7 linked regions of the Homo sapiens genome follow. The protein of the gene in region 4 interacts with the protein of the main gene of each other region in a pairwise test. Each region holds a gene or a part of one and is shown on either strand. Other genes may lie near its edges.

Evidence for each region.
Region 1: the proteins of TLCD4 (region 4) and TVP23B interact in binary tests that used the Homo sapiens proteins (3 or more experiments, as listed by UniProt).
Region 2: the proteins of TLCD4 (region 4) and LNPEP interact in binary tests that used the Homo sapiens proteins (3 or more experiments, as listed by UniProt).
Region 3: the proteins of TLCD4 (region 4) and ATP13A1 interact in binary tests that used the Homo sapiens proteins (3 or more experiments, as listed by UniProt).
Region 5: the proteins of TLCD4 (region 4) and SLC41A1 interact in binary tests that used the Homo sapiens proteins (3 or more experiments, as listed by UniProt).
Region 6: the proteins of TLCD4 (region 4) and HMOX1 interact in binary tests that used the Homo sapiens proteins (3 or more experiments, as listed by UniProt).
Region 7: the proteins of TLCD4 (region 4) and TIMM23 interact in binary tests that used the Homo sapiens proteins (3 or more experiments, as listed by UniProt).

Annotation. Positions count from the first base shown.
Region 1 is NC_000017.11:18,784,183-18,787,682, forward strand, and holds part of TVP23B (Golgi apparatus membrane protein TVP23 homolog B), read left to right. Parts: intron 1-3,500.
Region 2 is NC_000005.10:96,939,080-96,942,579, forward strand, and holds part of LNPEP (leucyl-cystinyl aminopeptidase), read left to right. Parts: intron 1-3,500. UniProt on the Homo sapiens protein: Release of an N-terminal amino acid, cleaves before cysteine, leucine as well as other amino acids. Degrades peptide hormones such as oxytocin, vasopressin and angiotensin III, and plays a role in maintaining homeostasis during pregnancy.
Region 3 is NC_000019.10:19,657,177-19,660,676, forward strand, and holds part of ATP13A1 (endoplasmic reticulum transmembrane helix translocase), read right to left. Parts: intron 2,812-3,500; coding exon 2,722-2,811; intron 2,616-2,721; coding exon 2,425-2,615; intron 233-2,424; coding exon 160-232; intron 1-159. UniProt on the Homo sapiens protein: Endoplasmic reticulum translocase required to remove mitochondrial transmembrane proteins mistargeted to the endoplasmic reticulum.
Region 4 is NC_000001.11:95,151,855-95,155,354, forward strand, and holds part of TLCD4 (TLC domain-containing protein 4), read left to right. Parts: intron 1-3,500.
Region 5 is NC_000001.11:205,806,699-205,810,198, forward strand, and holds part of SLC41A1 (solute carrier family 41 member 1), read right to left. Parts: coding exon 3,372-3,500; intron 1-3,371. UniProt on the Homo sapiens protein: Na(+)/Mg(2+) ion exchanger that acts as a predominant Mg(2+) efflux system at the plasma membrane.
Region 6 is NC_000022.11:35,384,096-35,387,595, forward strand, and holds part of HMOX1 (heme oxygenase 1), read left to right. Parts: intron 1-2,589; coding exon 2,590-3,081; intron 3,082-3,500.
Region 7 is NC_000010.11:45,982,489-45,985,988, reverse strand, and holds part of TIMM23 (mitochondrial import inner membrane translocase subunit Tim23), read right to left. Parts: intron 3,467-3,500; coding exon 3,373-3,466; intron 3,144-3,372; coding exon 3,059-3,143; intron 1,382-3,058; exon of another isoform or gene 1,178-1,381; intron 607-1,177; coding exon 548-606; intron 1-547. UniProt on the Homo sapiens protein: Essential component of the TIM23 complex, a complex that mediates the translocation of transit peptide-containing proteins across the mitochondrial inner membrane.

The sequences.
Region 1 (3,500 bases), on a different chromosome or scaffold from region 4:
ACATGCTCTTTCACTGGTCACTCCATTCTTTTTCCTTTAAAGACTTGTATCATATATGCTTGTCTTTTAATTCTTCCAGTCTCTCTTGTATTCATTCTAGTCAGTCTCTCTTCCCCTCTCCCAACCATACTGGAACTGCTCTTACTGAGTTCCCTGATGACCTGTTAAAAATACAGTGGTCATGGCTGGGTGCAGGGCTCATGGCTGTAATCCCAGCACTTTGGGAGGCCAGGATGGGTGGATCATGAGGTCAAGAGATGGAGACCATCCTGGCCAACATGGTGAAACCCCGTCTCTACTAAAAATACAAAAATTACCTGGGGGTGGTGGCATGTGCCTGTGGTCTCAGCTACTCGGGAGGCTGAGGCTGACGCAGGGGAGTCGCTTGAACCCGGGAGGTGGAGGTTGCAGTGAGCCAAGATCACGCCATTGCACTCCAGCCTGGCGACAGAGCGAGACTCCGTCTCAAAAAAAAGAAAAAAAATACAGTGGTCTCTCTTTGGTTTTCATCTTACTTATGAGCAGCATTTGACACAGATGATGGATCCTCCTCCTGGAGGCACTTTGTTTGGTTTCCAGGACACTACCCCCTCCTGGCTCACCTTATGTTCCTTGGTACTTCTTTTTCAGTCCCCACAGCCTATTCCTTCTTATCTTTGTGATCTCTAATTATTGGAATGCTAGGAGTCTGTCTTAGCCATCTTTATCTTTTTAGTTGTTCAGGACAAAAACTTTGGAATCTTCCTTGATTCCTTTTATTTACCCTTCCTCCACCTCCCCAGTCAGTCCATCAGCAAATCCTGTCAGCTCTCCCTTAAAATGTACTTGGAATCTATTTTTCATCACCTCCACTGCATCCATCTTAGACCAAGCCATTACTTCTTGGCCTCGTGATTAAAGTAGTTTCCTAACCAGTCTCCTAGCGTTGTGCTTTTGTCCCTCCTTCTTCTCCCCTCCCCCTCCAGATTTTTACTACAGTAGCCAGAATTCTCTTTCTAACAGGTGAGTCAGAACATGCAGTCTTACACTTAAAACACTCCAATGGATCTCCCTTTCAACGCTTTTTGGTTTTAGCATCTTAAAATGTCATTTAGCATCTTAAAATGTCCAAAATCAAACTGCTGATTTTGCCCCGAAATCTTTTGTGTCCGTGGTCTTCCCCATCTTAGTAAATGTAACTCCAGGAGTGCAGAGCTATTTGTCTTTTTTTTTTTTTTTTTTAAATCTGTACCACTTACAGCAGTACCTGGCACTTGGTAGGCACTCAGTATTTACTGAATAAATGAGAAGAAATGAGTCTTTCAAAGAGCAGGGTAAGAGAATAGTGTTCTAGGTAATATGAACCATAAGTGCAAAAGAACCTGACGGGGCCCAAGTTTGGCATGTTTAAGGAACTGAAAAGAAGGCCAGCCTGGGCATGGTGGCTCATGCCTCTAATCGTAGCACTTTGGGAGGCTAAGGCAGGAGAATTGCTTGAGCCCGGGAGTTTGAGACTAGCCTGGGCAACATAGCGAGACCCTATTTCTGCAAGAAATTAAAATATTAGATATGGTGGCTTGCAGTACTCAGGAGGCTGAGATGTAGGACCTGCAGTAGTGACCCCTGATTGCTCCACTGCACTCCAGCCTGGGCGAGAGCCAGACCCTGTGTCAAAAAAAAAAAATGGCCAGTCTGGGCAGGAGCTTAGGTACTGTATAAATTTCCTGTTGCTACTGCGGCAGTGAAGTCATATGTACTGTTGTAAAGTTCTGGTGGTCAGAAGTCCAGAATGAGGCTCAAGGGGTTAAACATCAAGGTGTGGGTAGGGGTTCTGGAGAATCAGTTTCCTTGCCTGATGCAGCTTCTAAACACCTGGGATCCCTTCCCCATCTTAATGCCATGAGCACAGCCTCTTCAAATCTCTGTCTCTCATCTCTACTTTGCTTGTTTCATCACCTTCTCTCACTGACCCTCCTTTGTTTCCCTTGTAAGGACCATTGTGATCACGTCATCTGACCAGCCTGGGTAATCCAGGATGATCTCTTGACCTCAAGATCCTTAACTTAATCTCATCTGTGAAATTCTTTTTGCCAAGTAAATTTACATATTCACAGGTTCCAGAGATTAGAACCTAAACATTTTTGGGAGGGGTGAGGAGGTATTCAGCCTACCACAGTTAATGAAGAGTGAGTGGCCTGAGATAAGGTCTTAGAGATTGGCAGGGACCAGATCATGATAGGTCATGATAGGGAGTCTGTTTTTCAGTCATAGTGCTGAGAGGTTTCAGTAGGGGAATGATAGGATTTGATGTGAAAAAGTCTCCCTGGCCGCTGGATGGCGATTAGACTGTTGGGATCGAGAGCAGAAGGCCTCAGCTTTTTATTCATAACATCATACGGTGGATCTCAATCTTGCTGTACGTTATGATCACACCTCAAAGCAATTATATCTGAACCACTGAGGGCTGGACCCAAGTATCAGCCTTTTTTTGTTTGTTTGTTTGTTTTTTAAGAAAAAGCATTCTAATTGTAGCCAGGGTTGAGAACCACTAGTCTCATAGATCTGAATCCATTTTACCTTTTCAGCCTTAGCTCAGTAGGAGCTTCTCGCATCCATCACTTACTGCATGAGCTACTTGACCATTTCTTAGACAAACTTCCTGTATTCCCACCTGTGCCTTTCAAAATATACCTAGTCTAGGGAGGCCTACGCGGACTGTCAGGGCCCAGCTGACAAACTCTCCTCCAGAAAGCTTCTCCAGTGCCCTGTAGTAGGAATGATTTGCTTCCTTCCCTGGCTCCCATTTGCACTTAGATTTCTCAGCCCTGATCACAGTCAGCTGTATATTATCGTCTCCTTTGCTTATTTACTCATGCCTTCAACAAATACTGTACCACTTGGCTGAATGCTCTGCTAGACACTAGGATTTACTACAATGCAAAGACAGTCTTGGTTGGGCGTGGTGGCTCACACCTATAATCCCAGCACTATGGGAGGGTGAGGTGGGCGGATCCCTTGAGGTCAGGAGTTTGAAACCAGCCTGGCCAACGTGGTGAGACTCTGTCTCTACTAAAAATACAAAAATTAGCCAGGCTAATTAGCCGAGACACACTCCTGTAATCCCAGTTACTCAGGAGGCTGAGGCACTAGAATCTAGCTTGAACCCAGGAGGTGGAGGTTGCAGTAAGCTGAGACCATACCACTGTACTCCAGCCTGGGCGACAGAGCAAGACTCTGTCTCAAAAAAAAAAAAAAAAACCTTGTCTTCTAGGTCCTCCAGCAGCTTAATCTATATGGAGGTAGGAGCGGGTAGATGTGCAATAAGAATACTCTGAGATGATTGTTCAAATGGAGATTCGTCCAAGTGCTGTGGGAACATGGGGATTTCAGAGACAGGTTTTCAGCTATTTCAGTATTTGAGCTAAAAAACTTGAAGGATGATTTGGTATTTGGTGGTGAGCAGGGCATGAGGAAGGGAAGAGTTTTCTGAGACAACATGTGAAAGGCAGGAGATGGGAGAG
Region 2 (3,500 bases), on a different chromosome or scaffold from region 4:
TTTGCATGCAGGGTTGGTATATTTTGTAAAAACTTAAATTCATCTTAAGAAATGCAAATGCTAAGGTTCACCCTCAGAATCTGATTAAGGAGGTCTGATTATATATGAAATACATACTAGAAAGTATGTATACTTTCTTTTTTTTTTTTTTTGAGACACAGTCTCACTCTGTTGCCCAGGCTGGAGTGCAGTGGCACAATCTCAGCTCACTGCAACCTCTGCCTCCCGGGTTCAAGTGATCCTCCTGCCTCAGCCTCCCGAGTAGCTGGGATTACAGGCGCCCGCCACCATGCCCAAATAATTTTTGTATTTCTAGTAGAAATGAGGTTTCACCATGTTGGCCAGGTGAACTCCTGACCTCAAGTGATCCGCTCACCTTAGCCTCCCAAAGTACTGGGATTACAGGCATGAGCCACCGCGCCCAGCTGAAAGTATATATACTTTCTAGTTTGTGATATATTCTAAAGTATATCTAAAGGTTGGTATTTTGGCATTTTGAGGTCCCAGAACTGAAAACATAAATAGTTTTTTTTTTCATATGAATGTAGGTCCTATGAATCACTTTTATTACCGCAGTGTGGTGCATAATCAAACAAGGAGGACTTAGTTGTCTTAAAAAATTATTTTTGCTTTCATGTTCAGATTGGTATCCAGTTGAAAGTATTTTTCAACTTCAAAAATGGGAAGTCTGGGCAACAAATGAGATATTTGTGGGTTGTAATACAGTATAAAATTGTGATTCCATCTTTTAATCTTACAAATAACAATTGTTCTATAGATATGTGAGTCTTTTTAAAAAAAAATTTTTAGCATCACTTCTCAAAAATGTGAGCATACCACATTTTGTTTTTATTTTTCTTTTGCTCTATGATAAATTTCCACATTGAAAGACAACTCTTAAGAAATAGGAGCTCATAGTTTCTCTGTGTGATGGAATATAAGTTAAATCCTGTTTTTATCTTTCTGTCTTAAGTTTTTAATTTTATTTGGGGGAAATAAGACTGTTAGGAATTAAGTGTTAGCATCACTAACAATCTAGGGTTAAAGCTATAGCTAGAAACAGCCCAGTTTTTAACTGGAAACTAGTGGTAGAAAAGTTCTTTGCTATTACTTGCCAGTTTCCAAAAACTGTCTTGATACATGCATAAAAACAGCATATTTTAGAAACTCTTATAACCGGTGATTATCATTTATCTGTAGGTTATCCTTGAGAACTCAGCCTGAAAGATAGATAACCAGAGAGATTGGTTATAAGGAAATTATATAGAAAATAAGTGGTAATTTTCTGCTCAGTAATTCAATCATACAGCTATCTTTTGAATGCCCATTTACAAGTAGATTTTCTGCTAGACACAGTTACATTAAAAAAAAAAAACCCACAACCTCGTCATCAGATAATGCTTACCTAAATAAGAGAAATGAATAGAAGAACCTAGTTTTGTTGTCATGCTAATATGAAATATGGAAACACAGAAGAAATAAAAAAGCAATAAAGTTTTGTCTAAGACAGTATTCTAATTATGAAATAAATGTACAGAAACTGTTCATAACTGTTTGCATGTCTACTAATTTAGTGTAATACTCCTATTAGGAAACAGCAGTATTAACCCTGTCTATGAAAACATTAGGAAATTGAGATTTGAAAGAGTTTAGCCAAGATTACCCCAGATGTTGGGATGGACCTAGATGAGGCCTGTGGTTCTTGGCAGTCGAGGTGAGGTCAGTGCAGCTATGTTTTGTCAATTAGTCACCTCATGACTTGAAAACTGTAGGGCAGCAGTCCCCAAACTTTTCGGGACCAGGGACCACAGTCGGGGGGATGTATGTATACTTTCTAGTTTGTGATATATTCTAAAGGGGAGAAGGTTTGGGGATGACTCAAGTGCATTATATTTATTGTGCACTTTATTTCTATTATTATTGCATTGTAATATACAATGAAATAATTATACAACTCACCATAATGTAGAATCAGTGGGAGCCCTGAGCTTGTTTTCCTGCAAGTAGACAGTCCCATCTAGGAGTGGTGGGAGACAGTGACAGATCAGGCATTAAATTCTCAAAAGGAGCACACAACCTAGATCCCTCACATGCGCAGTTCACAATAGGGTTCGTGCTCCTATGAGAATCTAATGCCACCACTGATCTGACAGGAGGTGGAGCTCAGGTGGTAATGCTAACGATGGGGACTGACTGTAGAGATGAAGCTTCACTTGTTTGCCTGCTGCTCACTCCTGCTGTGTGGCCTGATTCCTAACAGGCCAGAGACTGGTACTGGTCTGTGGCCTTGGGGTTGGGCAAACCTACTGTAGGGGGCTGGAGTTGAGCTGATACTACTAGGCCTTTCCATAGTATAATTGGAGCAACCAGAAAGACACAGTCTTTTATTTATTTATTTATTATTATTTTTTTAATTTGAATCCGTAGATAAATTTCAGCAACTTTTCTGAAAGTTTGCAAGAAGCCAGGATTGAGAATGAAGGGACATTTTGGAGCCCTTGTGGTGGTACAGTTCTTTTTATATCTAGATCTTGACCTAGATCTACATATGGCCGTTATAGAGAGTGTTGCTTATTGCCTTGGTGTTTCTGGACAGTAAATGGAACATCAAGAGTTCTCTGTGTCCATGGAAGGGTGGACAGGATTCCCTTGTAACCTTATCCATTGTTGTAATTCATTTGTGATTGTCCTAGCAGCACCTGAAGGACTTTGCATTTTACAAAGATGTTTAGAGAAAATTGGAAGAGGAGAATCAATGATGAAGATGAAAGAAATGTGGAGATTGGGGGTAAAGGAAGAAGCTGATAGGCAGAGATTTTAAAAATGGTCATGCCTTGATCCTTGCAAGTCTTTGGTTCAGAAATGAGCTTCAGTTGGAGAGCAGGACACTGTTGTATGAGGTTGAAGACAGAGTCTAGGTTGGAAGGGGACAGGTAGGTAGGTCTGGTTGGATTAATGGAATTGGGGGCTCAGGGGACAAATGAGTTAAGATTGGCATTTGGGAGCCTTGCCAAGAGATAGAAAACATTTGCCAGAAATTTAAGCATACTGTCTTTTTTATAGTCAGAAAATTCAGTCACTCGTAAGTTGGGACTGTTCACTTGTCTGAATGTTTTAGATTTAAAGAAAAAATATAGCTCTTTGATAAACAACGTGGTGTGGAGCTGTGGTAAGCCTGCTCTTGCTCCTGACTCACCGCCGCTCGCTCTCACCAAAAAACAGGTTGGTCAGGAGATACAGAAAAACGCCCATGAAGCCAGAGGTGGCAATTCACTGAATTAGAATCACTCTAGGCCCAGCGCGGTGGCTCACACCTATACTCCCAGCACTTTGGGAGGCTGAGGCAGGCGGATCACCTGAGGTCAGGAGTTTGAGGCCAGCCTGGCCAACATGGTGAAACCCTGTCTCTACTAAAAATACAAAAATTAGCTGAGTATGTTGGCACGTGCCTGAAATCCCAGCTACTCGGGAGGCTGAGGCACAAGAATCACTTGGACCCA
Region 3 (3,500 bases), on a different chromosome or scaffold from region 4:
GCCCTACCCGCCCTGTTCCCATGAGCCCCTTCCACCCACCGGATCTGATATGTGAGGGTGGGGAGAGGCTTCCAGGTTTAGAAGTGGTGGGCAGGCTTGATCCGGTTAGGAAAGCCCCAAGGGAGGAAATGGGGAGATGGGCCAGAGCTGCTGCTTTACCTGAAATACAAAGAAGGGGGCTGTGGCTCTCTCCTTGAAAAGCTCCGAGAAGTCAGGCACCACCATCTCGGCCCTGCAAGAGACCAGGCCCCATCCTGTTCCCAGGGCAAGGCCTCTGGGGTATGGAGTCTCCACCCTGACCCCTCCAACCTGAGCATGGCAGGCCGCTCTCAAGAAACCAAGAGCCATATGTGGGCGTCGGGAGCCCTGGCGAGCTTCCAGATAGGAGGATCCATTTGGCAGTGGCTCTCCCTCATCCTGGCTGAGCCTGGGGTAGACATGCTGCCCGCCCACAGCCCTCGGCTCTGCATAAAACAGATGAAGCTCCTTAATCTGCAATATGCTCTTCCTGGCAGCCTGGGGCTGGTGTCAGACGAGAGCCCGTCATCTGGTCGAGTGACACAGCAAGTAGAGAAGGAACCTCTGATTGAAAGATGGAGGCCCTGAAGCTACAGACAGCAGAAGACACTGAGACCCAGCCCCACCAAAGCTGAGATTTTCTATGATTCCTGAATTAAAGCCCCAGAATGGGTCGAGTAGGGTGGTTCACGCCTGTAATCCCAAGCACTTTGGGAGGCCGAGGCAGGAGGAGTGCTTGAGCCCAGGAGTCAGAGACTAGCCTGGGCAACACAGCAAGACCTTCTATTTACAAAAAATTTAAAAATTAGCTGGGGGTGGTGGTGTGTGCCTGTGGTCCCAGCTATTTGGGAGGCTGAGGCAGGATGAATGCTTGAGCCCAGGAGTTCAAGGCTACAGTGAGCCATGATCACACCACTGCACTCCAGCCTGGGTAACAGAGTAAGACCCTGTCTCCAAAAAAAAAAAAAAAAAAAAAAAAGGCTCGAGAATGCAAGGACTTGGGCCTAAGGGTGTGTTCTGCAGTACTCTGTGCCATAGTCCAATCTGATCAGGGCACCAGTCATGTCAACGAGGGTCATTCTCGCTCTGCCCTTTAACTGCATGGACGTCTTATGTATGGGATGTGAGAAGAGGAAACCAAAGAGCAACCCCACTGCTATCAAACAATAAGCCCTTCCCTTGTATCTTGCTGGGTACCTTTGCGTTGAGTAAGAACAGCATGAAAGGGAACGTAGTTGCCACAGGCCATTAATGTGACTGGCCAACCTTGGGGTAGGGGAAGTTGCTAAATGTTTCTTATAAATCCTTGTATTAGATTGATAGTTGTAGTCAACATATTTGTAATCTCTGAACAGTGATTAAGTCAGGAAAGAGCTCCCTAGGTGTTCTGTGGGTTTCTGGGTTGAGGACCATCGTAACAAGGCCATGATGGGGTTTGGAGCCCAGTTCTCCGGCTCCCAGCCACGTGTCAGCATTTGCAGTTTTGGTGAAGATGAAGGGAGAGGGTGTGCACCGCACATTGGCCATTGTACTCAGTACAAAAGGGCAGACATGGTCACGGTCTTCCATCACCATTCTGAAGCGCTGAGATGCGTAGACTCGAAACAGTGAGGACTGAAATGTTTAGGTTGGGTGCAGTGACTCATGCCTGTAATCCCAGCACTTTGGGATGTTGATTTAGGAGGACTGCTTGAGGCCAGGAGTTTGAGACAAGCCTGGGCAACACGGCGAGACCCCATCTCTACACAAATAAACATTTTAAAAGAATTTAAAATAAAGCTGTTGCTGAGGAGGGGCCACAGGCTAGACTCCTGTGAAGAACCTTACACTCAAGGTCTCACACCCCAGGGCACGGGCTTCCAGCTGCAGACCCTCTGGGGTTCCTGCCAGCAGGCAAGTTCAGGGGAGACTGGACTTAGAGCATGTTGCTCAAGCGGCATCACAGTCACCTGGGACATTTGGCTAAAAGGGCAGATTTGGCCGGGTGCAGTGGCTCACGCCTGTAATCCCAGCACTTTGGGAGGCCAACATGGGAGGATCACCTGAGGTCAGGAGTTCAAGACCAGCCTGGCCAACATGGTGAAACCCCCATCTCTACTAAAAATACAAAAATTAGCCAGGCGTGGTGGGGGGAGCCTGTATTCCCAGCTGCTTGGCAGGTTGAGGCAGGAGAATCACTTGAACCGGGGAGGCGGAGGTTGGGGTGAGCTGAGATCGCGTCACTGCACTCCAGCCTGGGTGACAGAGCGAGACTCAGTCTCAAAAATAAAAAATAAAATAAAAATAAAATAATAGTAAATAAATAAATAAAAGGGCAGATGCCTCTGTCCCGCTTCCTAGGCACCCTGAATCAGGAGGGGAGCAGGACAGAAAGGCAAAGGTGCTACAGGCAAATCAAGGACTCACTTGTTGCTCCCAAATTTCTTCTCAGCTGCTCGGATCTCTGAGTCTTCCTGGAAGCCTCTGTTGCTCTGATAGTATGAGAAGGCGTTTCCCACAGGAAAGGCCACGGGGAGAAACTGCTTCTTCTCCAGGGCATCGTAGGAATACTTGATCTTCTGGAATTCGAAGGACAGCACCTCAAGCCCGTCTTCGCCCTGCGGTAGAAGGTGTGTTTGCCACAGAGGCCCCTGACCTTGGGGTGTCAGCGCCTGGGAATCCTACTCAAGCCCCTCCTCCAGGAGCCCAGCAGGCAGTCCCTACCTCATTGCGGTGCAGGGCCACGAGCTCCGTGGAGCCATTGTTGGGGGTTGGCACCACCTTCACAAAGGTCGCTTTGCTGGGGTCGTACTCCTGACAGAGACAAAGAAAGCATTGTGGCTTAGCTCTTCTCAACCTACAGTTCCAAGACCCCCCCGGGAGGTTTTGGGTGCAGCAGCTCTATGGGTATATTCTGAAATGCCACTGGGCTCTGGTGCTGCCTCTGTCACTCCCTCGTCTGTCATCAGGACAAACGAGACCATCTTGCTGTGCCTCTGGTGCCACACTTAAAGCTGGGAGCACAAGGCTGGGCACGGTGACTCACACCCATAATCCCAGCACTTTGGGAGGCCAAGGTGGGCGGATCACTTGAGATCAGGAGTTTGAGATCAGCCTCGCCAATGTGGCGAAACCCTGTCTCAACTAAAAATACACAAATGAGCCGGACACGGTGGTGCACACCTGTAATACCAGCTACTTAGGAGGCTGAGGCAGGAGAATCCCTTGAACTGGGAGGCGGAGGTTGCAGTGAACTGAGATTGCAACACTGCACTCCAGCCTGGGTGGCAGAGTGAGATCCTATCTCAATTAAAAAAAAAAAAACAAAAAACCAGCCAGGCACAGTGGCTCGCACCTGTAATCCCAGCACTTTGGGAGGCCGAGGTGGGCAGATCACGACGTCAGGAGATTGAGACCATCCTGGCTAACACGGTGAAACCCCATCTCTACTAAAAACACAAAAAATTAGCTGGGCGTGGTGGCAGGCATCTGTAGTCCCAGCT
Region 4 (3,500 bases):
CAGACTTTTTCAGAATTCCAAGACCAAGGTTAATAGAGGATTCTTCCAACAGATCTCAGGCAGTAAAGCATATTAAATTATATATCTAAAATTTCTACATATACATATGTAAACTAGCAACTTTATATTCCTTGTATGTTTGTTAGGTTTCTCTAGAATCAATTGTTTTTCAACATAAATATACCAACAAGCTCAAGGTAGATATTGCAACTGCAATTTTTTTCATAAAGATGGTTGCTTTTTTGATATGTCTATGTTCTGTTGTTATAGTTTAAAATTTGTCTTTTAAAGTGAATCTATTCATAGGGAAACAAAATAGGAAAAGTTAGATGAAATGATGAATGTTAACAGATGCTATAAGGATCCTATGTTATTTACCAATCTTACAGTAGTTACTCATTGACTATAAGAAGGTTTTTTTCTATGCAGTGAATTCCCAGGTCATTTTGTGCATTTTGTTATTCCAAGTAAAGCTAACAAAAATAATAATAATTATAATTTTGGGGGGGTAAATGATCATGAAATTCTTATCACTTATGCAATAATGAGAACTTGTATTTGGAAAGCACTTTGACTTAATACTTATGTAACCATTTAAGCTGTTTGCAGTAAGCTTTTTTTCTTAAATGATTTTGTTATTAGAACCAAAGTAAAACTTAAAGTGATGAATAGAAGCAAGTTCCCTGCAGTTTTAAAATGTATCCTTACTGAAGAAATAGTTGAAAAGTAAGATTCTTTGGAATTTAAGGTATTATAGGTTATATAATGTCTTGATTGCTATTTTTGTATCTTTCTACTATATTTACTGACGTTTTGAAATTCTCTGGCAAAGTAATTTAGAGCTTAATGAATCCTCTTCTGTCTATATAGAGAGGTACAAATCCTACAGCCTTTTTTCCTGATACTCATCTTTCACCCCTGGAGCAGGATACTAATTATCAAATAAACCTGACAAGCTGATCTCTTATTCTAAGAGAAATGAACACATTTATGCTTTAATCCTCAATTTTTAAGGACAAACTACCATCCTTTGTACACCCTTTCTGACTACATTGATAGCCTTCACTTTTTGTGTATGTGTTCCTTGTGAATCACTTCTTTCTCCAATTAAACCATGCCTTTAGATAATGAGTTAGAATATATTTGGAAAACATTTAAACTTGAAAATCATTCAATATGCATCAATTTCCAAGCCCACCATATTATTATTATTTATTTTCTTTTTTTTTTGAGATGGAGTCTTGCTCTGTCACCAGGCTGGAGTGCAGTGGTGTGATCCTGGCTGGGCAGAAGGGATAATGGGGAATTACTGTTTAATGGTACAGAGTTTCCATTTGGGAATATGGAAAGTTCTGGAGATGGATGGTGGTGATGGTTGTATAACAAAATGAATGTACTTAATGCCACTGAATTGTACACTTAAAAGTTGTCAAAAGGGTAAATTTTATGTCATATATATTTTGCCATAATAAAAATGTTAAAGCAAGCTTATGAGATAACTGAAACAAAGTTAGGAAGGAGAACTAATAACATATTGGACAATGTTATTACATTTTTAGAAAGGCTTCATCCTAACTATAAACTGAAACAAATGGGTGGAACTTAATAGTGATAAATGTTAAGTTTTGCATTTAGGTTCAACGATGCATAAGGATAAAGAATGACCTGGAGGTGGTAGATGATTGCATCTCAGTTATGCCAATTTATCACATCTGCTAAAACAGAAAGCTTTTTCAAATTTAGATTCTATTAGAGGAGGCCTGGTATCCAATTCACACGTAGTTTGCCCAGTCAGACCACATCCAAGACCATCATCATCTGAAGTCCCTAAACTTGCATGTATCTGGAAGAGAGCTGCTAGTTAACTGTAGAGAGGAGATATTAGATTAGGTAGCTATTGTCTTATAACAAACAATTGAAGGACCTGGAGATGTCAGCCTAGAAAAGCTAAGAACTATAAGGACATGATGGCCTTGAAATGTCCCTGGAAATGTGAAAGGACTACTAAGTGGAAGGGGGAGTAGACTTATTCTGGATTGATTCTGATGTTGGGACTAGGACCAATGGGGTGGTAAAGAGAGGTAGGGGAGACTTCTATTTTATGGAAGAAAGACATCCTCAGTGATTGGAAGATTATCACAATGGAAAGGCCTTTTAAAGTGGCTATTCTACCATAAGATAGCTTTAGTCAGATAGATATAAAAGTAGATACAATCAGCAGAAGCTTTAGGTAGGAGCTTGCACTAAATAATCTTTAAGGTTCTATTCTAATTCTGAGATTCTGTGATGCACCTGTTTTGTTGAAATGATTTGATTTAGTTCTGATGCAAGAGAACTAGACAATGGGGGAATTAACAATAAGCTAAGTTATGTCACCAAGTTCTTAAGTAACCCTAGGAGGAAGAGGTGAAAGCAGCTGGCCTGCCAATCCATTCACTTCCTTGGGGGACAGGAGGGGAGAAAAAGAAGGCACGTGGCCCAGTCTAATCTCCTTGTCAACAGGACTTAGGATAAATTGAGTACTGATGTTTGTTAGGAAGAAGAAACATTAACTCTGAAATGCCCTTAGCAGTGTGTCCCTGGGTAAGGATTACCTATAGTAAAGAGAACCCAGTATCTATAAGGCACAGCTCATTGGAGAAGGTCATGTAGGCACACAGCAAGGAAATAAATAACTGGGTTGCCAGTGGCCCTTGATGTCCCAGACCTCTCTCTGCTTCATTTGAATTATTTGATGGTCTCTATCTTTGTAACATTTAGTAGAGCTTAATGCTAGGTAGGAACACTGTTTCACATGAGTCTGATTTGGCAGTCCAGTCCTGTGTGTTAGCTCAAACCTTCATCTCTGTCTTATAAGCAAATAATCAAAAACCTTGAATGATTACAATTAAGCAAATAATTATTAAACATAGTAATAGATTTTGTTTCCAAACCTCAATTCTAGGTTGATGGTACCCTGAAACGGTTTCCATTAATAGGTAATAGACTGACCCAGAGTCTCAAGCACAATTGAAATGTGCTTGAGACTCTGGGTCAGTCTATTACCTGTTAAAAAATGCCCCATCATTGCCACTATAGAACACGGTCACGTTTTTACACAGGATTCCAATTTGGGATGCCCAGAACTTATTTCCTACCAACATATAGTCGTAGTGTAGTGTAGTGCAGTGCAGTGCAGTGTAGTGTAGTATAGTAGGGAAAGGGTGCCCATTTCTGTCCAGGCCTTTGGTGGTAGAACAGTCAGTATTTAGTACCATACTAGCAGTAGTAGGTGCATAATTTAGTTCTCTTTTCCCCCCCACCTTATAAACCTCTGGTCTTAGCCACTCTTAGCTGGTAGAAAAATTTCCCATAGTAAGAAAATCCAGACTTCCATAATCGCTTGCTAAAAGGAGAATTTTCTTTTAAGCTGCGGAAGGGATCAGAAAAATCCTGTTTTGTTTCCCCTCACAGTCATGCAGAGGCCATGGCAAATGTAGATTTTACTCTATGCAAAGCTC
Region 5 (3,500 bases), about 110 Mb from region 4:
CAGATGGAGGTCCATTTATCCTTTTCCTACTTTGGGCCAGCACCAGCCCCTTATTTCACTGCAGATGCTGCTGTGCACATTTACGGGAGGGCAGATAAGAGGAGGCAGAAATGACCCTTCTAGGAAGAGAGTGGGTTTTCTTTTTCTTTTAAATTAAAATTAAAATTCAACTTTTTATTTTTATTTTTTTTGCATCTCGTTGGTGAAAAAGAAACCAAGTTTTCTACAGCAGCAAGGAAAGATGGGGGCCCTGGACCAAGGAGACATCTGAACCAGGCCCAATATGGACTCCTGCTCAGTTGCTCCAAGATGCTGGGGACACTCCATAGCCAGCTTCTCCAGATGGCCCCATGGTCTTGGGGCACTTTCAGATTCTCTTACTGAAGTCCATCTTAGCTTATGAAGGGGTAATATAGGTGTGAATCCTTAGAAACCATCCCGCTCTTCCTGAATCTGAGATTGTCAGTCCCCCTTTTACTCCCATGGATGTGGAATAACAATCTCCCTGTGGTCCCATGTCTCGGTCCCTCTGCACTCACCCCCTCCTGCCATCTCACTGTTGCCATCTGCAGGGCCTGCTCCAGCCCAGCTGTAGCAGGAAGGCTGGGGGAGGAGGACATGGACAAACCTGTCATTGTCATCCACACCAAGTGGACCCTAGCTCTGAGGTGAGCTGAGGTGCCACACTGAGAGCAGCTCCAAAGGTTCCCTACCCAGGCCTCTCAATGTCTCCAGCTCATGGGCCTGGAGTGGGGATGGGGCAACACATCAGAAACTTTGGAATCTAAGTGTGTGGGATGGGTAGGGGTGTGGTGTGTATGCGGGGGTCCCTCCCTACCCCATCTAAGAACTTTTATTCTTGCTCACTTCAGAAGATAACGCTAATTAATCCAGATTCTAATCCACCCAGTTCTTCAAGGAAAGACAAAGAAAATAGGCTCCTCGTAGAGTCTTTTTTTTTTTTTTTTTTTTTTTGAGACAGCGTTTGGCTCTGTTGCTGAGGCTGGAGTGCAGTGGTACAATCATAGCTCATTGCGACTTCAAACTCCTGGGCTCAAGTGATCACTCCTATCTCAGCCTCTCAAAGTGCTGGAATTATACGAGAATGCCACCATGCCTGACTATTTTTTTTTTTTTTGGTAGAGACAAGGTCTCACTTTGTTGCCCAGGCTGGTCTTGAACTCCTGGCTTCAAGCGATCCTCCTGCCTCAGCCTCCAAAAGTGCTGGGATTACAGGCATAAGCCACCATGCCCAGCCAGAGTTTTTTTTTTTTTGAGTTGGAGTCTCGCTCTGTCACCCAGGCTGGAGAGCAGTGGCACGATCTTGGCTCATTGCAGCCTCCACTTCTCGGGCTCAAATGATTCTCTTGCCTCAGCTTCCAAGTAGCTGGGACTACAGGTGCCTGCCACCATGCCCAGCTAATTTTTTGTATTTTTAGTAGAGACGGGGTTTCACTGTGTTGGCCAGACTGGTCTCAAACTCCTGACCTCAGGTGATCCGCCCGTCTTGACCTCCCAAAGTGCTAGGATTACAGGCATGAGCCACTGAGCTCGGCCCCCTCTCCGAGTTTTTAACCAACTGGTGAACCATGGCCATGGCGAAGGCCACAGGGGTTAGTGGTGTGGGCTCTAGGGTCAGATGACCAGGGACAAGTTACCTAATCCCTCTAAGCTACAAGTTCCCTACCTACAAAATGGAGATGATTATGGATCCTACCTCATGGGCCTACCGAAGAGCCCCCCAAATGCTTCCCCACTACCATTACTATTATCCAGAAAATAAGACAACTCTCTTCAGTTCACCTCTGGACCCTGGCTCTGCAACCCTTTGTAGGTATCAAACCAGAATGCAACAACTTCAAGAATGAGAACTGAGGCCACAGGAAAGGAATAGAAGAGGTGAAGAAAAATGTTACCCTAGTCTCTTTCTCCTCCTCCTACTGTCCCAGTCCCGGCCCTAGGGGGAGGAGCAGCCCCTAGCAGGAGGAACCCAAAGCTCCAGGCTGGCTTCCCAACCTCCATGTAGGAACAACCTTCAAGATAACAGTTTTGGGGAAAGGGGAGGCAGTGCAAGGCACTTTGGCATGACTTAAACAGCACTCTCATGAGCAACCAAAGGTGCAGGGTTCCCCTGAAGGGCTCAAGTCAAAGTTCTCCATGTGCACACACTATCAAGAACCAACCCCCTTCAGTCTCCCAGGACACAGGCATGGTGAGACCTACCAGCAGAACTCTATATCACTATGGTCTGTAGGGTTGGCTTGGCACAGGGAAGGTGATGCTAAGCTTCGTGTCCTTCTGGGAGATATCACAGTCAGGGAACACTGGGGGTCCCAAAAAGCAAAGGCCAGATCTCCTCCTGCCTTGGTATTAATATTTCTCTGAGTACCTAGGACAGAGGCCAGCATTCAGCAGGAATTTGATACACATTGCTGAATTACTTAGGTAAACCCAGCACCTTCAAAAAGTTTGGTGTGCCACACTGTGCCTAAAAAACTTTTATCTAAAAACAAAACTTTAACTCTTGGACCTGGAGGTTCTTCATAAGTCCTGACTCACAATAAATTAACATGGCACATCTCTGGCTCTTAGATTCCATGTCCCACCGACTCTCATCCTTCATTCTACCCAATGTCCTCAAAAAGAACCCTCTTTGCCCAGGGCAGGTTCAGAATGACAGGTGAGGAGCAAAGAGGAGAGACAGTTCTGCCCAGGCCTAGTTACATTTTGTCCCCATTTACAGCAGATAATTAGCACATTTGGGTCTTGTTACACCAAATCTCCAAATCATGCATCAGACAGCAAGTGCCCACCCCCACCCCCCAAGGGGATTATGCCAAGGTTACAGGAAGATAAGCAACACAAAATGCCTTCAAGAGCCTTCCTACTTAATTTGAGACCCTCTTGGCAGCTGAACAAATTCCTGCCCAGTAGGGGGATGGAGGAGAGGCTTGAAACTGAGCTTTCTACTATGGGTATCCTTGAAACCCCAAATGCAGGGGACAAAAGGCATAAAGAGGAGACCCTTGTAAATGTCTCCTACTGAGCTGGGCTCGGCAGGACTGCTTGGGAGAGATGGCAAGCAACGACCCTGTTCCATCTCTCCTCTCCCAAGCCTGAGCTCGGGAGCCAATTCTGTTTCTATTTAGCAATACTGCCCTGATCACCTCCCCAGGGCTACTCGGTTTCCTTGAGGCTTCTGTAGAAAGGAACTAGACCAAGAAGAAACCGAGGACATGATCCAAAGGAAAACAGTATTCTAGGAAGCAGCAGCCACTTCTGACAGGGAGGTAGAGAGGAAGTTCCAAGTTTCCCAGCAGGCAAAGGTGGCCCTGGGCTCACAGTCAAGAGCTGCCCTACTCAGGTCCTACCTGCACGATGTCCAACACCATGCCAGCAGCCACGGTCCCAAAGCCTGCCAGGAGGAATGGAAACAGTACTTGCAGCCCGATGGAAAAGGAGGTCTCCTTGAGCGGGGAAGGTGGCGCAGGGCCACGGTC
Region 6 (3,500 bases), on a different chromosome or scaffold from region 4:
ATCTGAGACAGAGTCTCACTCTGTTGTCCGGGCTGGAGTGCAATGGCAAGATCTCGGTGCCCTGAAACCTCCGCATCCTAAGTTCAAGCGATTCTCCTGCCTCAGCCTCCCAAGTAGCTGGGACTACAGGTGCCCACCACCACACCTGGCCAATTTTTGTATTTTTTTAGTAGAGACAGGGTTTTACCATGTTGGCCAGGCTGGTCTCGAACTCCTGACCTCAGATGATCCACCCGTCTTGGTCTCCCAAAGTGCTGGGATTAGAGGTGTGAGCCACCACCCGGCCGAGACATGCTTTAATGAGGAGAGATTTAATCTGTGGTTCCAGGCTGGGTGGGGTCCTTGGGCCTGTAATGGGTCTTCCTCATCCTCCTCCCCTCTCCCTTAAAAAGATGAGGTACACCCAGTTGCTGCAGTGTGACTGGAGACAGTGGGTGCAGGGAGGTGAATGCTGGAATATCCCATCCCCAGCCAGCTTAGACTTTGGATTTTGCCTCTAAGTCACAGGGTTCTAAGGAGGCGCCAAGATCCATGAGAGAATCCAGTGCTCACTTACATTAAGCTGGTGGACGTGGCACTTATCACAGCCCTTCTCATGTGAGCGCTAAGTGCCAGGCTGCCCTCTGTGCTGGCCCAGATCCTCTCACTTAATCCTCACACCAGCCCCATCTAGTATGTGGCAGGTGAGGGAACTGACTAGCACAGTTGGCTAGCACAGTCACACGGACCTCAGATCATCTGCTCTAGGATAGGATAGGAAGCTGGGACCAGAGAAAGCAAGTGGCTCACCCATGGTCACACAGTTAAGGACTGGCAGAGTTGGGTAAGAACCAGGTCCGTCACACTCAAAAACCCAGGCTCTTTTGTACCAGACTGCCTGGCTTTCTGTCCCCTCAAGGAATAGAGCTGCTTTGAATGTTTGTGGCTCAGAAATAACTCAGAAACTCCAACCTAAATGTCTTAACTTTGTTCTCCTTCAAATTTAAACGGGCGTATTAATGTGTAACGGGAGTTAGTGCCCCAAGCCAAGGTACACTCAAGACCTGTTGCCTCAGCCCAGCATGCAGAGGTGGTGGGGTTCAGAATAGGCCTCCAGGAAGGAGAATTGTGCCCTGTAGTTGGTTACGCAGAGGTCAAAAGCCAGAAGCACATGGCCAATCTCCTTTAAGCACTTTCATTTCAGCTGTTCCCCTCTCCTGAGCCATGGTGGGTCCCTGGCAATGCCCGGTCTTCAATCTAGTTTCATTTCTTACTAGCTGTGCAACCTCCATGTCTCATACCCTCTCTGAGCCTTAGTTTCCTTTTCTGTAAAATGGGAATAGCAATTCCTTTGTTGGATTTTTTTTTTTTTTTTTTCTGAGACAGGGTCTTGCTCACTCTGTTCCCCAAGCTGGAGTACAGTGATATGATCACAGCTCACTGCAACCTTGAAATCCTGGGCTCAAGTGATACCCCTGCCTCCGCCTCTGGAGTAGCTGGGACTATAGGCATGCACCCCCACAGCCATACCTGGCTTTTTTTTTTTTTTTTTTTTTTCTGAGTCAAAGTCTTGCTCTGTCGCCCAGGCTGGAGCGCAATGGCGTGATCTCGGCTCACTGCAACCACTGCCTCCTGGGTTCAAGCAATTCTCCTGACTCAGCCTCCCGAGTAGCTGGGATTATAGGTGCCTGCCACCATGCCTGGCCAATTTTTGTGTTTTTAGTAGAGATAGGGTTTCACCATATTGCCCAGGCTGGTCTCTTGGCCAGGCTGGTCTCGAACTCCTGATCTCGTGATCCGCCTGCCTCAGCCTCCCAAAGTGCTGGGATTACAGGCGTGAGCCACCGCGTCCAGCTGGCTAGTTTATTTATTTATTTATTTATTTTTATTTATTTTTTTGAGACAGAATTTCGCTGTGTTGCCCAGGCTGGAGTGCAGTGGCGAGATCTCAGCTCACTGCAAGCTCCACCTCCCGGGTTCACGCCATTCTCCTGCCTCAGCCTCCTGAGTAGCTGGAACTACAGGCGCCCGCCACCACGCCCGGCTAATTTTTTTGTATTTTTAATAGAGACGGGGTTTCACCTTGTTAGCCAGGATGGTCTTGATGTCCTGACCTTGTGATCCTCCCGCCTCGGCCTCCCAAAGTGCTGGGATTACAGGCGTGAGCCACCGCACCTGGCCCCAGCCAGCTAGTTTTTTAAAATAATTTTTTGTAGAGGTGGGTTTTGGGCTATGTTGCCCAGGCTGGTCTCAGACTCCTGGCTTTAAGCAATCCTCCAGCCTTAGCCTCCCAAAGTGCAGGGATTACAGGGGTTTGAGCCACCACACTGGGCCAGTTTGTTAGATCTTTATATAAGGATTCAATTAGGCTGCTTGTTTTGCCCAGTGGGGTAAAAGGTTTTTAGGCTGAGAAAGTGCATGATCGTCTTTTCCTCTTGTAAAAACCCCTCTGGCTGCTGTGTGAAGAGGATTGTAGCGAGGGGTGGCAGAAGGAGTCAGAGCCCAGCTGCGAAGTGAGGAGGGCCTTTCCAAAGGCAGTAGTGGACGGGACGGACAGAGGTGGGGGTCTTCTATGTGGCTGGCGGCCTGACCTGCTCACTCTGCTTTCAGCTGGTGATGGCCTCCCTGTACCACATCTATGTGGCCCTGGAGGAGGAGATTGAGCGCAACAAGGAGAGCCCAGTCTTCGCCCCTGTCTACTTCCCAGAAGAGCTGCACCGCAAGGCTGCCCTGGAGCAGGACCTGGCCTTCTGGTACGGGCCCCGCTGGCAGGAGGTCATCCCCTACACACCAGCCATGCAGCGCTATGTGAAGCGGCTCCACGAGGTGGGGCGCACAGAGCCCGAGCTGCTGGTGGCCCACGCCTACACCCGCTACCTGGGTGACCTGTCTGGGGGCCAGGTGCTCAAAAAGATTGCCCAGAAAGCCCTGGACCTGCCCAGCTCTGGCGAGGGCCTGGCCTTCTTCACCTTCCCCAACATTGCCAGTGCCACCAAGTTCAAGCAGCTCTACCGCTCCCGCATGAACTCCCTGGAGATGACTCCCGCAGTCAGGCAGAGGGTGATAGAAGAGGCCAAGACTGCGTTCCTGCTCAACATCCAGGTGAGGGTCGGGCAGCCTGGGGCAGCCTCTGCCTCCCCCCGTTGTTCCTCCAAGGGACCCTTCTCATTGTAGGGGAGGGTGCTATAGGTCATGGTTAACACAGGGAACCAGAGTTCCAGCACTGCCACTTACTAGCTGGGTGATCTTGGGCAAATGCCTTCATCTCTCTGTACCTCAGTTTCCCTATCTGTAAAATAGGGATAATAATGGTACCTATATCTTAGACTTATAAGGCTTGAGTGAATTTACAGCAGTAAAGTCCCCACAGCAGTGTCTGGCACAGAGGAAGCCCTCAAACATTCACTACTGTCATAATGGGACATGAGAATCAGTTGTAGCTCTCTGTGACAACAGTCTGTGGCAATGTATAAGTTGTGTGTGCACTAGTGTATAGCCAGGTTGGCACTCCCAGGGTTACA
Region 7 (3,500 bases), on a different chromosome or scaffold from region 4:
TGGTATGAAAGCATAAGGCTCTGACTAAGCACTACTAAGTTACCTTTTGCCTAGAACTGCAAACGTTTTCATTATCTACAAGGAACCTATTCCAATTGTGGCAATTAGGTGCCTGAAATCTACTCAGGTAAACAGACTAATGAACCGGCTATTAAGAAAACATAGCAAGAGGGCTGGATTAATTTATCATGTATCACTACAGGACCTTGAACCTTGCCTAACATACAAAGCTCTTTACTTTGGACCTAAATTACCTGGATTTCATTTAAACATGATTTTATTGGGTGTTGTGCTTGGAAAGGAGAGTGTGCAGTGTCCAAAAGATTTTAAAAATTCAGCAATGGTATTCAGAACGGTATTAGCACCTGAGATTATTTCATAAGTTAGTTCATGGTCTTTCCCTAAGTAGTATCTACATTATGCATTGGAATGGGTTTAAACATAATTGTCTCATATCCTAGGACCAGAATATGGGTTGATCAAATTGTTCATGATATTTGTGCATTCTTTCTTTAACAATTTATTATCAAATGAGATCTCTACTTACCCAGAGAACCTAGAGTATTAGCCCAAAGTGCCCCTTGCCTAGTCACCATATTCAAAATCCTATCAGGGCAGAAAGAGAAAGAATCTGTATTTAGAATCATTATTTCTCTAGTAACCTTTAAAAACAATAATGGCTATTTAACATGTCTAGACCCAGGGCGCAAAGTTTTTTAAATTCTAAAATACATCTTAATATCTCCGATTTCAATAAGGATGGTTTTTACTCTACATAAGTGAAAATTAGGTTAAAACTTTCAAAACTTTAGGCAAAAGTCTTAAGGACTTTTATATAAGTCCTTAATAATAATAATAAGGAAAACTCTTATTATTAAATGTATAATATAATGAATACACATTAAATATATATAAGGCTTTGAATGACAGCCTGGAATGTATCTTACAGAGGTTTACAGAAACTAATCTATGTAAAAAATGCCACTGTTAACTATGGCGAGCTAGCTTCTAAAAGGTTCTTTTTGGGAGGGGAACATATGCTTAGAATGTTAAAGATAATCAAAGTAAAGAATATCAAAGTACAGAATATAAAGTAAAGAATATCAAAGTACAGAATATAAAGTAGAATTAAAGAGAAGGAATCAGCCATCTAACTAGAATACATGGGGAAAGCACCCTGTGTCTGCTCCTAGACTAGAACCAAGCAGCCAAGGTGAATGCTCAGCACACTCTCAAGGAAGCACAGTTCTGCCTTGCACCAGTGCCAGACACCACCAGAACAGTGATGGACGCAACTGGATGAAGAGAAGACATTCTTCTCCCAGCAGTGTAACATGATCCCAGGAATGGTTCTGTCCAGACAGCTGACTACTGCTGGAAATTATGGAAATACAGTAACAAAGAGTGAAGGAACTCATTCAGTTTAATTATTAAACGACTCAATTAATGTTCTACAGAAACAAAAATTTGTATTTTCTAAAAGATTGTTTTAAAAAATCAGTAATGTTTACAAACAGAAGTATATTGTTTCTAATTATGTTACATATTTACTAACATATTTTAAGTTCAGCCATCATTTTTTCATTTTTAACAAGCATTTTAATAACTTGTTTTAAGAAAGGAAGCAAGTTGTCTTTTCTAGGAGATCTACTTCCAAATTTGTATTTAATATGATATTGGGGTTTTTGTCTCAAAATAAGATGGGAGAGGAGAAGGAAATGGGATAGAACTGGCCATGGTTGATGGTTGTTGAGGATGCGTTATGGTTCATGTGTTCACTATGCTATGTATTTTGTCTACTTTTATATATTCAAAATTCCCCATAATACAAAAACTTAAAAATATTATTGAAGCGAGGGACAAGTAATAAAAATATTGAAGGATCTAGGCTGGTAAAGCATGGACAGAGATCCACACAGTAACAGGAATATAAAAAACTTAACAGGGCTAGGCGCAGTGGCTCACATCTGTAATCCCAGCAGTTTGGAAGGCTGAGGCAAGAGGATCACCTGAGCTCAGGAGTTTGAGAACAGCCTGAGCAATACAGTGAGACCCCGTCTCTACAAAAAATTAAAAAATTAACTGGGCATGGTGGCATGTGCCTGTAGTCCCAGCTACTCGGGAGGCTGAGGTGGGAGGATCACTTGAGCCCAGGAGGTCAAGGCTACAGTGAGCTGTGATGGCGCCATTGCACTCCAGCTCAGGCAACACAGCAAGGCCCTGTCTCTCAAAAAACCACACAATTTAACAGGCCTTCCAGTTTCCCATGGTCTAATTCTAGCACATCTGGTGCCATCTGCTGGCTGAACAATATGAAAGGAAGATGGAGTTTAAAGTGTCCTAAAACAAAACAGTAGCCATCGAAGAATACATACTCATGATTCCACTTACATGAAGCATAAAAATGGGCAAAACTAAACATATTGTTTAAGGAATATCAAGAGGGACTGGCCATGTTTACTTCTTAAGTTGGGTGAAAACATACTTTCCGATCCTTTTAACTGTACTTTCCCTTCTCTGTAACTTCAAGTTCTAACAGAAAACTGTGTCTTATCCTTTTGGAATTAACTCTAATTCTAAAAATTTTATTTAAAATGTATCTGGCTCATCATTTCGGAAACATAAAGTCAAGACAGTAAGAACTTCAAGTTAAATGATGGCAGCTTGAGCCATCACTCTCATGAGCTGCTTATTCTTCATTACCATTTCCTATGGATCTGCATGCCCCCAAACAATCCAAAATTCCCATTAGCAACTCAACAATTTGAAAAGCAAGTCACATAGGGTTGGAGAATGTAACAGGTGCAGCTGAGAAGTCAGGCTGGCATAGCACTAGCTGACTGAGGGACACTGATTAAAAAAATCACTCCTTTTTAAAAGCTTAGAGTCAGTAATCTGATTCCTTAGTTGCTTTTATTTTGATTAAGATTAAAAAACAAAGACAAAAAAGCACATAACTATGCTAACCATCTGTAATCTCAAGGTTGTACTCATCAAACCAATACAACAGAGCTTAATATTCAAGTATCACTACATCAGATGGTTACAAGAGACTTACTGTACATTTCTTGGTTTGGACCAGGCCATGTTCTGGGTTTCCTTCAATCCTAGCCGAAGACCATTCATTGCACCAAACGCAGCCCCTGGTAAATCATAACAATTCACCCAGATAAAGACAGCTTTATATTAAAAAAACAAACTCAAATCTGCATAACTACACTTCTGATTCTTTTTCATTTTTATTTAATAGAAAAAGACAAATGTAAATATTAAAAAAAAAACCCTGAAACCAACATTCTAATTGCTTTTGATTTTACGCACCCTCAACTACTTGAACTGAGCACTCTTGAGAAAAAAGTATGTAACACTCACCTGTCATGCAACATCCTCCAATCGTAAAGAAGGCCAGCTCAAATCTGCCCCGGGTTTTATTAGCTCCGGTAGGTAAAATAAACTCATCTGTATCCTAAAAGGATAATAATGAAAACCAAGCTGAGTGT